2 separate regions of the Homo sapiens genome follow, and region 1 is linked to region 2. Evidence: fine-mapped expression QTL. A gene starts in region 2. The other region holds a variant in brackets. All regions are shown on one strand. Distances are from middle to middle. Region 1 overlaps HEATR3 (HEAT repeat containing 3). Region 2 holds the start of HEATR3 (HEAT repeat containing 3).

Region 1 (4,393 bases), 27 kb after region 2:
GCTTGGCATGGTGGTGTGTGCCTGTAGTCCAGCTACTTGGGAGGCTGAGACAGGAGAACTCCTTGAACCTGGGCGGTGAAGATTGCAGTGAGCCAAGATTGCACCACTGCACTCCAGCCTGGGTGACAGAGCAAGACTCTGTCTCAAAAAAGAAATTAATTAATTAAAAATAAGAAAAAAAATTCAGGCTGGGAGTGGTGGTTCACACCTGTAATCCCAGCACTTTGGGAGGCCAAGGTGGGCAGATCACCTGAGGTCAGGAGTTCAAGACCAGCCTAGCAAACATGGTGAAACCCCATATCTACTAAAAATACAAAAATTAGCCGGGCGTAATGGTGCATGCCTGTAATCCCAGCTACTTGGGAGGCTGAGGCAGGAGAATCACTTGAACCCGGGAGGCAGAGGTTGCAGTGAGCCCAGATCTTGCCACTGCACTCCAGCCTGAGCGACAGAGTGATACTCCGTCTAAAAAACATAATAATAATAAAAAAATTTTAAATCAGTCTGAAAAATTCACCTGAGTATAATTACTTGTGGGTTGATGATGTACCTACATTTAGACATGCTACAAATTCTTAAATATTGTTCAAAGTTGGCTGGGCACGGTGGCTCACGCCTGTAATCCCAGCATTCTGGGGGGCCGAGGCGGGCAGATCATGAGGTCAGGAGATTGAGACCCTGGCTAACATGGTGAAACCCCGTCTCTACTAAAAATGCAAAAAAAAATTAGCCAAGTGTGGTGGCGGGCACCTGTAGTCCCAGCTACTCGGGAGGCTGAGGCAGGAGAATGGCATGAACCTGGGAGGCGGAGCTTGCAGTGAGCCAAGATCGCACCACTGCACTCCAGCCTGGGCAACAGAGCGAGACTCTGTCTCAAAAAAAAAAAAAAAAAAATATCGTTCAAAGTTGTTGAGAGTAAAGACATTGAATCACCTCTTTGTGTGCAATTCATAAATCTATAAATTCATAATTTTATAGGGCTATACCTAGAGCTTTAATCATATATACACTTTGCAGTCAATATGGTAACTTTTTGAAGTTTAATAGCAACAAATTGGCTGGACGGAGTGGTGCACACCTGTAATCCCAGCACTTTGGGATGCTGAGGCGGGTGGATTGCTTGAGCTCAAGAGTTTGAGACCAGCCTGTACATATGATGAGACCCTGTCTCTACAAATACAAGAAAAATTAGCTGGACGTGGTGGCACGTGCCTGTGGTCCCAGCTACTCGGGAGGCTGAGGCAGGAGCTGATTGCTTGAGCCCGGGAGGTCCAGGCTATTAACAACTTCACTCTGATTTTTGAGTGCCTGTTAGGTACCACGTTTTATGAGACAGCCCTTGTTACTTCATTGTCCTGCTGAGGAAGCTGAGATTTAGGAACCTTAGCTGAGAGGTTAAGGAACCTCTTCCAGGTCATTCTTTTTTTTTTCTTTTTTCTTTTTTTTTTTTTTTTCCTGAGACGAGTCTGGCTCTGTCGCCCAGGCTGGAGTGCAGTGGCGCGATCTCGGCTCACTGCAAGCTCCGCCTCCCGGGTTCATGCCATTCTCCTGCCTCAGCCTCCTTAGTAGCTGGGACTACAGGCGCCCGCCACCACGCCTGGCTAATTTTTTTTTTTGCATTTTTAGTAGAGACGGGGTTTCACCGTGTTAGCCAGGGATGGTCTTGATCTCCTGACCTCATGATCGGCCCACCTTGGCCTCCCAAAGTGCTGGGATTACAGGCGTGAGCCACCGCGCCCGGCCCAAGGTCATTCTTTTAGCTTGTATTTATTGAATGCTTT[A/C]TGTCATACACTGTTCTAGATGGTAGGGATGCAGGCGTGAACAAGATAGGCCAGGTCAATATGTTCGTGGAGTTTGCATTCTAGTATAAATAAATGTTTTATGTGATATTAGCTATGAAGAAAAAAGTAAAAGCAGAATGATATGAGGCGTTACACTAGGCCAGTTAGTGTGGAAAGGCCTCTGTGAGGAGGTAACATTTGAGCCAAGACTAAAATGAAGGCAGGAGGAGTCACATAATTATGTCAAAGGCAGCTCTCTATCCTAGGGCTGAGTGTGTAAAGCTCTCCTATTATTCTGTGATCATTACGGGAAATCCCCTATTTTGGTACATAATACATATCTGAAAATGAAAGAGCCAAAAAATACAATCAGCCGGGATTAGAATTTGAACAGAAGCTGCCTCTCTTCTACCCGGGTAACCTAAAAGTGGGGGATCGGAATGGTATAAGTCCCAGGAACTGTGGGGCAGGAAGTGAGTGTATCTATTGCTACGTAACAAGTTATTCCAAAACTCTGTGACTTAACAACAACAACAATCATTTATTATTTCTCGAAGTTTCCTTTGGTCAAGAATTTAGACAGGGCACAGTGGAGATGGCTTTTTCCTATTCCACAATGTCTAGGCCAGTGGTTCTCAACCATGGCCACTTATCCCCTCCCACCTCCCACCTGGGGACATTTGGCAACGTCTGGAGGTATTTTTGGTTTTACAACTTGGAAATTGCAACTGGTGTCTAGAGGGTTGAGGCCAGGAATGTTCCTTCACATCCTACGGTGCCCAGGAGACCCCTGCGCACACATAAAATGAAGAATTATCTGGTCCAAAATGTCAGTAGTGCAGAGGCTGAGAAATACTAGTCTAGGGCCTCTGCTGGAAGACTCGCAGAGTATGGGCTGGAATCATCCGAAGTCTTGTTCACTCACGTGTCTGGCAGTTGGTGCAGGGGTTGTCAGGAAGAACACCCACAGTGACCTCTTCATGTGACGCAGGCTTCCTCATAACAGGATGGCTGGGTTCCCAGGGCGGAAGTCGAGAGAAAAAAGAGCATGCACACATGCGTCAGGGCTGGAAGTCATACTGCCTTTTGTGACCTAGCCCGTCACTTTGTATTCTGTTGGTTGAAGAAGTCACAAAGTCCCACCCTGATTTAAGGAAAGGAGAAGTAGATTTCACATCTTTATGGGAAGTGGCAAGGTTCTTGAAGATCACACAGGACTTGAAATATTGCCATGGCCATTTTTAGAAAATACAGTCTACCACACCAAGCAAATCTCTTCCCATCAAAGAGGTTAAGGAGCCAACTCCCCTGGGTGACCCTCACTGTCCCTTGCACGTGCCTGTGCCAGCATAATGGCTTACTGCTGGTGTTCTGTTTGTCCCGTGTGGGAAGAAGGGACAATAAGAAAAGTGTGCGAATAAGGAGTAGGAGTGGGAAGGGGATGCTGGGTCAGTTAAAGTGATGGTGCCATCATGTCCTGGCTCTGCACAAGCAACAGTGTGTGGCTAAGCAGTGGGCTTGGGTTGGCAAGGAAGCATTCTGACTCCACCAAAGGTAGTTCTACCCAGCACCCTGATGGAGATCTATGAATGACAGAATTCAGTCTGCAAAAGCTAGCTTAGGTTTATTATGTGCTGAAGTGTGAGTCAAATGAAAACCCAGTGTCTGGAAGTCAAGGACTGTCTGTAGAACACCTCCTTGCTGTGATTATTTTAACCACGATCATCTTTCAGACTTAGGTATAGAGTGTACAGGGGGCTGTTAACTAAATATTTTGGCTTAAATATCGAGGGTTTTTTTTTGTTTGTTTGTTTTATTAAGAATAGCATTTATTAACATTTAGCATGCTTTGTTTTGTTTGTTGCTTCTACAAAATAGCCTATCTTGGAGAAATGCAAATTTTATATTTCATTTTTGTGTTTTAGATTTTGCTAAACATGTTGACTTTCTAGAAGCCATAAGTAGTGCTTTGAGGGCCCTTTTGCAAACAATGGCCTCCAAGAACATTTCCCAGGTAAGAGTTTTAAAATTTTTTGTATGAAACTTGTAAAGATTGTGTATTATGGAGGCAAAATTCATTACTTCACTATTTTAAAAAATACATATTTCTGTTACAAGAATAATATGTGATCTTTGTAAAAAATAAAACAAAAGTGATTAAAATAAAAAGTAATATCTTTCTGCTCCCTACCATCAGCAACACACAGGTGCTTTTAATTTAATTTTTTAAATTTTTTAATATATAGGCTTACTAGCAAAACAAGTGCTTTTTAATCAATACAACTTAATTGATAGATATGTTGTAAATAATTTCTCTATCATTGGTCTTTTTTTTAAATCTTTTTTTTTTTTGAGACAGAGTCTTCCTCTGTCGCCCAGGCTGGAGTGCAGTGGCATGATCTCAGCTCACTGCAACCTCTGCCTCCTGGGTTCAAGTGATTCTCGTGCCTCAGCCACCCAAGTAAATGGGATTACAGGCATGCGTCACCACAAAATTTTTGTATTTTTAGTAGAGACGGGGTTTTGCCGTGTGGCCAGGCTGGTCTTAAATGCCTGACCTCAAGTGATCCACCCACCTTGGCCTCCTAAAGTGCTGGGATGACAGGCGTGAA
Region 2 (4,393 bases):
AAGTAAAACCCACCAACATATATTTAGTGGCTCCAAGGTTGATTTTTTTTTTTTTTTTTTTTTTGAGACGGAGTCTCGCTCTGTCACCCAAGCTGGAGTGCAGTGGCGTGATCTCGGCTCACTGCAACCTTTGCCTCCCAGGTTCAAGAGATTCTCCTGGCTCAGCCTCCAAGTAGCTGGGACTACAGGCACATGCCACCATGCCTGGCTAATTTTTGTATTTTTAGTAGAGATGGGGTTTCGCTATGTTGGCCAGGCTGGTCTTGAACTCCAGACCTCAGGTGATCTGCTCACCTTGGCTTCCCAAAGTGGTGGGATTACAGGTGTGAGCCACAGTGCCCAGCCCAAGATTGATCTTTGATAGGCCCAAATGCAACATGAGCTACACTTCTGTTACTCTCTAAAATTTGCCATAGTAATTAATTTCCCTTACTGGACAGTCAACTCTTTGACAGTAGGGTTACCATGGAATGGAAATTTTCTCCAGTAGAATGTTGACCTGAGCCTGGGCGTGGTGGCTCATACCTGTAATACTAGCACTTTGGGAGGCTGAGGCAGGCAGATCATTTGAGATCAAGAGTTCGAGACCAGCCTGACCAACGTGGTAAAACCCCGTCTCTCCTAAAAATAATAATAAAAAAAAAATAGCTGGGCATGGTGGCACATACCTGTAATCTCAGCTACTTAGGAGGCTAAGGCAGGAGGACTGCTTGAACTCCAAGGCAGAGGTTACAATAAGCCGAGATCGCACCATTGCACTCCAGCCTGGACAGCAGAGTGAGACTCTGTTTCAAAAACAAAAAGAAAAAAAGAAAATTGACCCAAAGCTATGCATATATTGAGTACTCACTCGTTACATGTCTAATTATAAAGACCACCTAAGATTCTCCTGTACTTTTCCCTCTGCTTAGTATTTACCACAATTATAACCAAAGTTATTCATATAATTATATATTCAACAGATCTCTCCCTGGACTGTAAATTCCATAAGGACAGGGAGAGAGGACAGGAACCAAACTGTCTTGATTACTGCTTTATTCCAATGCCCAGCACTGTACCTAGTACTCAACAAATATCTGCAAAAGAATCTCTTTGTTAAATACGTTTCCAAACATTTACATAGTGCTTAGTATCTGCCAGTCTCTGTTCTTAGCACCTTAAACATATGAACACATTTAGTCTTCGTAACAACTCCATGAGGTATATACTATCGATGTCCCCACTTCACTGATGAGGAAACTAAGGCAGGGAGATTAGGTTCTTAAGCGATTCTGTTTTATCAAATATAGACACACATTCGTTCCAAAACATTAACTAGTCTCTGTCTACGACAGGAGCTATGGGAGGTGCTGGGGACACAAAATAAAATCGTGGTTAATGCTTTTTGAGTACCTGCTATATATCAGGCTTGGTGTTAGGCACTTTACAGAACTTTATGAACTTTACAGAACTTACAATAACCTTGCAAGTTAGGTATTCTTAATCACATTTGATTATTTGTAGCCGGTGTTACTAACTTATTGGTTGCTTGATTGATTGATTGAGACAGGGTCTCGCTCTGTCGCCCAGGATGGAGTGCAGTAGCAGGATCACGGCTCACCTCAGCCTCAAACTCCTGGGGTCAAGTGATCCTCCGGCTTCAACGTCCCAAGTAGCTGGGACTACACACACACGCCACTATGCCCAGATAATTTTTAATTTTTTTGGTGGGGAGGACAGGGAGTGGAGTGTTTTCCTATGTTGCCCAAGATGGTCTCGAACTTCTGGCCTCAAGTGATCCTCTCGCCCGGGTCGGCGTTACTATTCTAGTCCAACCTCCTACTTACCCGGTAAACCCACAAGGCTCCGCCCCTTTGCCGAAGCTGGCCCCGCCTATGCCCTCTTCCACGCCTGCGCGCTCCGTGCGCCAGTTCCCCCCACCCCGCCCCGCCCCAACCCCGACCCGGCAGACGACGCGCCGTGCGCCTGCGCACGGCTTGCCCATGTGTGCTGCAGCCGTCAGCCGGCCCAGCTGAGCAGCAGCAACGGACCTTGTTAACGGCGCGGCAGCCTCCACCGCCTGCTGTTGCCCTCCTCTCTCGGTGGTCTGTCCGCCCAGCGCACGTCACCATGGGCAAGAGCCGGACGAAGCGCTTCAAGCGACCTCAGTTCTCCCCTACGGGCGACTGTCAGGCCGAGGCGGCTGCGGCGGCGAATGGGACCGGAGGCGAGGAGGACGACGGGCCGGCGGCGGAGCTGCTGGAAAAGGTGAGGCGAGGGCTCCGTCGGGCCGGGAGGCGAGACGAGGTTGCCCCGCGCGCGTGCGCATTGCGCGCCTTCTGACCCTTTTCGCTCTCATCCGCAGCTCCAGCACCCGAGCGCCGAGGTCCGCGAGTGCGCCTGCGCAGGGCTGGCCCGGCTGGTGCAGCAGCGGCCGGCACTCCCGGGCCTGGCGCGACGAGACGCCGTGCGCCGCCTCGGGCCGCTGCTGCTAGACCCCAGCCTGGCCGTCAGGGAGACTGCAGCCGGCGCGCTGAGGTGAGCCAGGAAGGGTGCGGGGCGGTGCCCACCGCTGGCCTCCCCCGCGTCTGGGCTGCGGGCGGTCGCAGCGGTCACCCAGCGCCTTCTGTGTGCCATCAGGCACTGGCCCGGTCTCCCGTTTGCAGAGATTTGAAGCCAGTCTCCAGGCTCCGGAGAAGCCCAGTATCCCCGCATCTCATCTGTCCACCTGGCTGCTTCACCTGCAGCGTCCACCTGCTCAGGCGTCCTGCCCTCACGCCTTGCGCACGTTTTACACTCTCCAAAAGCCCTCCTTAGGGTCCCTTGCTTGGATGAACTCTTCAGTTCATGTGTCAGGAATCGTTCTAGATGCAGGGGACTTTGAGCAGCCAAGACTTTTGAGCGAGATCTGTTGACAGCCAAGATCCCTGTCTTGGCACAAGTCATGTTGATGGGGAGACAGACAGGAAGCTAGTAAAAAGGTAAAACATAATATTAAATAGTGAGAATTGCTGTGGGAAAACGAGATGATGATGAGTTGGGGGTGGGAAGTTTGAATTGGGTGCTCTTGGGCCGGGCGCGGTGGCACACACCTGTAATCCCATTGCTTTGGGAGGCCAAGGAAGGAGGATCACTGGAGGCCAGGAGTCCAAGGCCAACCTGGGCAACATAGCAAGACCCCGTCTGTAGAAAAATTATAAACAATTAGTCGGGCATGGTGGTGGGTGCCTGTAATCCCAGCTACTCAGGAGGCTGAGGTAGGAGAATCGCTTGAGCCCAGGAGTTCGAGGCTGCAGTGAGCTATGATCACACCACTGCACTCCAGCCTGGGTGATAGAACAAGACCCTGTCTCAAAAAAAAAAAAAGGTGCTCTTTAGATGACTTGTGAAAGGAGATGTGCAGGGTGAGAGAGCCAGGAGGCATGGGAAAATAGGGGGAAGAATATTCCCCACAAAGGGAGCAGCAACAGCAAAGAAGCGAAGCAGCAGGCAGCTTGACGTGGTTAAACAGCAGAGAGGGTAGGTAGGTGGCTGAGAAGAGCAGGGGTGGGTAATTACAGGAAGTGAGGCTGGAGAGAGGGATGAGCTGTACGATGGTGTAGGGCTGAGGACTTAACTCTAAGCAGGGAAGTGACATGCTGCAACACATTTTGTGAAGACCACTCTGCTGGTTGTGCAGAGAATGGACTGCAGAGGGGGCAAGAGTAGAGGTTAGTATTTGTAGTTCTTACAGCTCTGTCTCTGTTTGTTATTTATATTTCATTCACTGATATAGCAAATATGTATAAAGTGCCAACTGTGTGCCAGACACTGAGCTAAGCTGTGGGCATGGGGTAATGAGCAAGGCAATGTCTCTCCTTAAGAAATCTTAAAGTGTATTGAGGGAGACAAGCATTAACCAAACAGTTACATAAGTGTATGATTACAATGAATGGTAATGACAAAGGGTGCTAAAAGAGGGTACAAACAAAGGGTTCAGGGAAGAAGACTGAGTGAGTGGTGCTTGAGGTGAGCTCGGAGGAATGAATGGGCATTCACCAGTTGATGGAGGGGGGATAGACGCTCTTCTTCCTTTAGGGAGGAAACAGCATGTGGAAAGCCCTTCCCTTCCTCCCACAGCATACAGAGGCTGGGGGATCCTGGCACATTGTGAGGGCATCTTCTGACTATCTCCATATCCTTAGGGACTAGCACAGTGCTGTGTACTCGGAAGTCATGTCTTTCCAATTAAAATTTACCCAGGGCTGCTTTAGGGGGTGTCATTCTCAGTAGCCCCACCTTGCTGCCCTTGCAGTTCGCTTTTTATTTTATTTTATTTTTTTAGAAACGGGGTCTCCCGCTGTTCCTAGGCTGGTCTTGAATTCCTGAGCTCAATTGATCCTCCCACCTAGGCCTCTCAAAGTGCTGGGATTAC

The links. PIP is the estimated chance that this variant, and not a neighbour inherited with it, causes the effect.
Region 1: its variant is the best candidate, but not a certain one, in a credible set for the expression of HEATR3 in testis (GTEx, PIP 0.80).

The regions. Positions count from the first base shown.
Region 1 is chr16:50,090,999-50,095,391 of GRCh38, forward strand. It overlaps HEATR3 (HEAT repeat containing 3), which reads left to right. Exons shown (of 15, transcript NM_182922.4): 12 at 3,707-3,795. Among named protein-coding and RNA genes, the nearest start is that of HEATR3-AS1, 27 kb to the left of the region's middle. The variant A/C (reference allele first, on the strand shown) is at 1,782.
Region 2 is chr16:50,064,023-50,068,415 of GRCh38, forward strand. HEATR3 (HEAT repeat containing 3) reads left to right here and starts at 1,948. Exons shown (of 15, transcript NM_182922.4): 1 at 1,948-2,247; 2 at 2,345-2,517. The coding sequence starts at 2,110. It overlaps HEATR3-AS1 (HEATR3 antisense RNA 1), which reads right to left and starts at 2,302. Exons shown (of 3, transcript NR_186390.1): 1 at 2,031-2,302; 2 at 669-785. RefSeq lists an enhancer at 1,756-2,050 and silencers at 1,901-1,950, 2,281-2,330, 2,411-2,670.